2 linked regions of the Homo sapiens genome follow. The protein of the gene in region 1 purifies or fractionates together with the protein of each later gene. This does not show direct contact. Each region holds a gene or a part of one and is shown in the gene's direction. Other genes may lie near its edges.

Region 1 (3,795 bases):
GTCGAGCTTTGGTCAGCTGCGTGGGTGCCTGTCTCCTGTCTCCAGCGGCAGGGCATGGTTCTTGGCAGCCTGGTGTCCACACGGTGCATTCCTGTCCCCCTCGGCCCCAGGCTGGCTCAGCTCTCCAGTGCTGCGGCGCTGTCTTTGCAGCATTGCCATGTCACCGTAGCCCCCTTCACTCTTGGAAGTTTGGGGCTTCAAGGTTTATTCTGGCAAGAACACCTCGGAGCCACTGCATTGTTTTGCCAAAAACTTACTGCAGATTAAGTAAAGAACTTAGATGCTAAATTACATCTAATTTTGTATGTTTTTTTAAATGTGTCTTTGATGCATACTTTAGAAGCACACTGGCTCGCGGTTTCCATCCCTCTTGCCTTGGGACACTCTTGAGGCTGGCAGCCCTCCTGCAATGAGTTGCTCTCAGTTCCTTCTGTTTGGATTTTGCTCAACATCTCCAGTTTCTCTGCTCTGAAAAATGGGGAAAACTGCTAAACATCCCAGAGATTTGCAATCTTCTAGCTCTCCAGGTGAGCAGAAAGACCAAATATCCAAATAAAAGCCTGAAAGCCATTGGTGATCCAGGGGCACCTTCTCTTCAGCTTGACTGGGCGTCTTCCGCTGCATAACACTCAAGGTGTCTGCTCTAGTCATCCAGAAACCCACTCCCTTCTGAAGCCCCTCCTTGGGCCGGGTTGTATCAGGAGGATTCAACCCCGCTAACATGTGGGGTGCCCTCTGTAGGCCTTCACACAGGGAAGGAAGCCCTACCCTTTCAACTCCTGTTGGAGTGAGAGTTTCCTGTTCTGATTCCACTGTGGCCAACCCAATAATTCTGTCCGAGGAGGGGTAAGGGAATAGGAGGTGGGGAGCAAAGAGGGCAGCCTGACTAGATGCCCCTGCTGAATCTGGTACTTTCTGCACAGCCTTGAGTGATTGGAGTCCCCTAATGACTAATAAACTTGAACATGTAACACACACACACACACACACACACACCATTTTAGGAAGTGGTTCTCCTACTGGAAAATATGCTACAGAATGAAAGTTTGTAATTGAAAGAAAAAGAATGTATTCATCTGCTTCTTGGGTTTAAGCACACACCTGAAGGGGAGATATTGGGGGACACGGTGGCCACTCGCGGTCTGTGTCATGACACTTCCCATTCACATCATTGGCCTGCGTTGCTGGGGCTTTGAACCACCACCCCGTACTTTGTTTTGCCTGTAGAGTGTTGTAAAATATTTTGGATGTGAATGTCCTTGCAGGCCGGTTAGTCTCCAGTTTCCACAGAGACCACCTACCCACCACCTTCCCAGGTCACCTGCCTGGTCCCTGAAAGAAAGCATTTGTGTGGGCAATCCCAACATGAAATGTAGACAGCGTGAATACGGACAGGAGGTGATGCCATATTCACAGTGGGGGATGGAGGGCCCCCACCCCTGCTTCACAGAATAATGGGAAGTGACTCTAGTCTTTGTAAGCAATTTTCATTCTCATTAGGAAGTTAAATGTAGATTCACAGATACATTTACTTTCAGAATCCTCAAGAGGATTTCAAATGCTAACTTTTAGTTTCTTGGGATTGATCAAGGCAAGAGAAGTGGCTTTAACCATGCCAGCCAGAATGAAGCATCATGGGTCCTGATGGTTTCCCGTTTTCATGGTAACAAATTCGCACAGAGGTTTTGCTTTATGCTGTAGAATACCGACTTTCATGATGACAACTTGGTTTATGCATGAATATTGCAGTATTTCCATATAGCAAAATAACATTTCTACCCAGGATAATAGTCACAGTTTTCCAGGGAGGGAATGATATAATTTTCATGACAATGTCATGTGATGATAGAATTTCTCCATTGATGAATCTCTAGTATGTGTGTATACTTTATTTACCCATACGTATATTTTATGACCATGAGCTAAGTTGTTATTTCTTTCATTCATATCCCTGCTGAAATATTGGTACTAGCAACTTAAAGTTGGCAAGTCTCATCTTCAGTAATACGGATGCCATGGGAGTGGCCAGGCCAGATTGAAGGTGAATATGGAGCAGTAGCAGAAGCCTCATTCCAGAACCCATCTGGCCAGAGAAGCAGCAGCATCCTGGGGGATGGCCGTGCATGGGGTGTACACTCGCTATAGGCATAGGCCCGGCATGGCTGTCGCTGGACGCCAGCTGTGCACACCCAGCCACACCTGCTGCACGCCGCGTTAGTGTGCGGCTCCGGGCCTGAGCATTCGCAAAGCTCGCTTCTCCAGGGAGCCTCCTCTTGGCTTTGGAAAAGAGCCCAGGGACTTAACGTGCTGCCTGTTGTACTCTGTCCCCTCATGACTTTTTAGACACAGGGACTAGGACATCGACCACCCTCTGCCCCTCCTGCAGTCAGAACCCGAGTAGTGCAAGAACGGCCACCCGGTTTTGCCAGCGTTCAGCGTCTGCCCATGGACCCATAAGGCACATTAGCGTTGGGGGTCTCTTTTCAGCAGCCTCACAGACATTCCCGTCCTTTCTGGTTGGTGTTGACTGTGTTTCAGCATCACTCTACCCTCCCATGTCCTTAGCATTGCTGTGCGTGTTTCCAGGCACTTAGGACACCCTTCCCCACGTTGCCATCTTACTGACAGTTCAAATGACTCTCCTTTTTTGTTCGTTAGTAACAATCTTCATTTGACACCTTAATACATTTCTGACTGTTCTTAAAACAGTGGGGATGCCTATATTTTCCTTGAGTTTTTGTGACTGACTTTGGCTATATATACCTTTCTGGGGTTTTGTTTGTTTTTTATTTTTATTTTGATTACCGAGGGTATTTGGGGTGGGGTTGTTTTTTGAGATGTGTAATTCTTTTATGGAGTTTTTAAAAAGAATTTTCATATTGTTTTTCTAACATGGCTTCATTAAACGTTTAAGTATTTTAAAAATATGTAATATTTGGACCAGATGTTGTGAATAATAGTAGAGATAAAGCTATTTTATTCTGTATTTTTAAAACTGTTCCGTACAAATAAAAGCTCTCCTGGACACAGTTTTGCTCTTCACGTGCCTCCTTCTTGGGCTACTCTTTAAGAAAAGAGTCATCCCTCAGAATCTGTAGGGGATTGGTTCCAAGACCTCCTCGGATACCAAAATCCGAGACTACTCAAGTCCCTGATATAAAATGGCATAGTGGGTCAGGCACAGCGGCTCACCCATGTAATCTCAGCACTTTGAGAGGCCAAGGCGGGAGAATTGCTTGAGGCCAGGAGTTCGAGACCAGCCTAGGCAACATAGTGAAACCCGCCCCCCCCGCCCCGCCCCTTCACTAAAAAAAATTAGGCACACATGGTGGTGAACGCCTGTGGTCCCAGCTACTTAGGAGGCTGAGGTGGGAGGATTGCTTGAGCCCAGGAGTTCAAGACTGCGGTGAGCCGTGTTCGCACCACTGGACCCCAGGCGAGGTGACAGAGTAAGACTGTCTCAAAAACATAAAATGGTGTTGTGGATTTTGGTGTAGTGTATGTGTACATGGATATGGTGTAGTGTATAGATTTGGATATAATCTATGCATATCTTCCTGTATTCTTTAAATCATCTCTAGAGGACTTATAATATCAAATACAATATAAAGGCTATGTAATACTTGTTACACTGTATTGTTTCTATATTTGCATTTTTATTGTGTTGTTTTTATTGTTTTTTATTTTCAATCCTCGGTTGAATCCAAGGATACAGAAGCCTCAGGTACAGAAAGCCGATGGTAATTAATTAAAAGTTGTCACCTAGGGGAGGAAATCAACGGATAAGAAATTCAA
Region 2 (3,100 bases), on another chromosome or scaffold:
GGGCGACGACGATGGGAAGTGAGTGCCCACCCTGCCACCATGATCAGCGCGGCGGGCTTAGGCAGGGGCCGTGGAACGTGAGGGGCGCGCACACCATTGTGTCAGCTGAGACTCAGCGACACGCACCTCCAACACAGAGGGAAGGGGCTCTCCTGCCTCTGCCCTGCCCCTGCCAGTTTTGCTTTTCGGCTTGCCCAACTCCCTGGAGCCTTCCTGATGCTCTGGGTTTATGTCGCTGGGTGCCCCAGGGTGCACAGTCCTGAGCTTTGGGGATGGGGTGGGGTCGGGGCGTGCCTGGCACCAGGTACCGTTGCCACATGGGCCTCCCCTGAGCCGCTCCCCCTCTCCTCTCCTCGGCCCAGCTTGGAGGAGGACTTCATCACCTGGCGAGAGCAGTTCTGGCCGGCCGTGTGTGAACACTTTGGGGTGGAAGCCACTGGCGAGGAGTCCAGGTGAGCAAGTGCCCGCAGGTGCGGTGGGTGGCCTGGGCGGGTCCTGTGCCGAGGGCAGCCACCCTGGAACAAGGGCTGGCAGTGGGTCGCAGCAAGGTTAGAAGACACTCCGTCATAGGGTCGAGGAGGGACCTTGGTCCCAGCCAAGGACTCACTCTGCCACGTTGCTCTGCACTGCCCTGGGGCAGCGGGGTGCATCCCACCTCTCGACAAGGACACATCGCGTCGGGCTCTGTGGCTAGGTTCAACTTTGGCAAAAGGGCTCATTTCCTTAAAATCTGCCTCCACAGACTTGGCCAAAAACATAACGTTCCTCTCTGTGCCCTTGATGGCCCCTGGGTGCTGCCCGGGCTTCCTTACCTTCTCCCAGATGGAAGCCTGCCCAGCCCTGCCCCGGCTTCTGGGCGTCTGGCCCCCGGCAGCTCCACGCCGCCTCCCTCCTTGCTCCCTCGCCTGCCCTCCTTGTGCATCTGCAGCAGGGGCTCCCCTGCTTCTTGTCGTATGTACCTGGGACCTCACCCCAAAGGCCATGCACGGTCTCCCCTGTAGTCCAACCCCTCCCTCTCGGGACTGACCCCTGCCGCTTCCCGGCCTCACCCTTGGTCTCCCCTTTCCAGCATTCGCCAGTACGAGCTTGTGGTCCACACCGACATAGATGCGGCCAAGGTGTACATGGGGGAGATGGGCCGGCTGAAGAGCTACGAGAACCAGAAGCCGTGAGTGGAGGGAGCGTGGCTTGGGGCAGACGGCTCTATGGCCACTGGTGCACCCCAGGCTCAGTCTGCCGTGTATCCCCATATCCCCACAGGGCCCTTCTCACCAGACCCCGTGCCCCGAGTGGGTGTGAGTGTCCACGACCTGTCCACGGCCCGGCCCCAGGAGACTGGCACTCGCCCAGTTTGTACTGAGCTCACTTAGCCACCTTACTCTGCACTGCCCAGGGCAGCGGGGCACATCCCACTTCTCGACTAGGACAGTGCATTGGCCTCTGTGGCTAGGATCCTCTTTGGCAGAAGGGCTCATTTTCTTAGAATCTATCTCCATAGATAGACTTGGGGGAGAAACCTGGCGTTCCTCTCTGTGCCCTTGATGGCCCCTGGTTGCTGCCCAGATTCCTGCCCGAGCCACCCAGGGAAGTCCTCGTGCCACTGCATCCAAGACCAGCTGCCCTGCTTTCTGTAGGCCTGCCCCAGCCTGGCTGGAGCGAGAAGCCCTGCATGTCGGTGGCTTTCCGGAGTGCAAGTTTCTCTCTTGTCCACGGTGTAGTCCAGGACGTGTGGGGGTGGGGGAGCTGTGCTCCTCATTTGGGGACCAGCCACCTTCCAGCCTGTGGCACCGTCAGCTTGGGCCTCACAGTTCTTTTAGGGGCCAGCCTCAGTTTCCACATCTGTAAACAGACACTGATGACCCAGCTCTGCCCATGTGGTGGGACTATAGAGAGAACTGCATTAGGGCTGGGCGAGGTGGCTCACAGCTCTAATCCCAGCACTCTGGGAGGCCGAGGTGGGTGAATCACCTGAGGTCAGGAGTTCAAGACCAGCCTGGCCAACATGGTGAAACCCCGTCTCTAGTAAAAATATAAAAGTTAACCAGGCATGGTGGCGAATGCCTGTAATTCCAGCTGCTCAGGAGGCTGAGGCAGGAGAATTGCTTGAACCTGGGAGGCAGAGGTTGCAGTGAGCCGAGATCGCGCCGCTGCACTCCAGCCTGGGTGGCAGAGCGAAACTCTGTCTCAAAAAAAAAAAAGAGAACTGCATTGGACCAGGCTGGGAGAGCCCTTGATGTAACCGGTGAGATTTCCTCATGGAGATCTCTGAGATTCCCTGTGCTTTGTGCAACCAGAAGCGTCCTTGGAGACGGAGACTCAGATCAAAGCCCCGGCCGCTCACTGTGCTTCTCTCCTCCCCACCCAGCCCCTTTGATGCCAAGAATCCGTTCCTGGCTGCAGTCACCACCAACCGGAAGCTGAACCAGGGAACCGAGCGCCACCTCATGCACCTGGAATTGGACATCTCGGACTCCAAAATCAGGTACCAGCTGCCACTGTCACCCCCTGAACCCTCACTCTGGGCCTCCTGACCTGGGGCAGGGCCAGCCTTCCGCCCCTCCCGAGCCTCACATCTCCCTCCAGGTATGAATCTGGGGACCACGTGGCTGTGTACCCAGCCAACGACTCTGCTCTCGTCAACCAGCTGGGCAAAATCCTGGGTGCCGACCTGGACGTCGTCATGTCCCTGAACAACCTGGATGGTGAGTGCCACAGTCAGGGCGCCCTGCCGGGCTCAGGCAGCCGCGGGATTGGGCCTGTAGGAAGGCCCTGGGTTGAGCTTCTGCTTAGGCCTGAAGCCCCGGTGCCTGGGAGGCCCTTGCACCGAGACTCCACGGTTACAGGATCCCAAGCAAACGGGAGGCGGGGTGGCCCTAGGGGTCTAGCCCTCTCTGTCGGGGTTCCCCCTACCCCGTCACTGTCATAGTCCTTTAAGGGAGTGAGGTGCTGAGGCCTGGTGGCAGAGGCAGCCCTGGCTCCCCCATGGCCACTGTGTCCTGCTGGGAAGGAGGGCCTGGCTCCACGACCCACCTCTGCCGGCCTGGGGCTGCCCCCACCTCCTCACTGAAGTCAGGAGTCAGCAGCCCTCCCAGGCCCCCAA

The links.
Region 2: the proteins of SLC23A2 (region 1) and POR purify together in Homo sapiens (affinity purification with mass spectrometry; one large-scale study listed by BioGRID and IntAct). This does not show direct contact.

Annotation. Positions count from the first base shown.
Region 1 is NC_000020.11:4,851,592-4,855,386, reverse strand, and holds the end of SLC23A2 (solute carrier family 23 member 2), read left to right. Parts: 3' UTR 1-3,029; downstream 3,030-3,795. UniProt on the Homo sapiens protein: Sodium/ascorbate cotransporter. Mediates electrogenic uptake of vitamin C, with a stoichiometry of 2 Na(+) for each ascorbate.
Region 2 is NC_000007.14:75,981,155-75,984,254, forward strand, and holds part of POR (NADPH--cytochrome P450 reductase), read left to right. Parts: coding exon 1-18; intron 19-362; coding exon 363-452; intron 453-1,069; coding exon 1,070-1,168; intron 1,169-2,365; coding exon 2,366-2,482; intron 2,483-2,583; coding exon 2,584-2,702; intron 2,703-3,100. UniProt on the Homo sapiens protein: This enzyme is required for electron transfer from NADP to cytochrome P450 in microsomes. It can also provide electron transfer to heme oxygenase and cytochrome B5.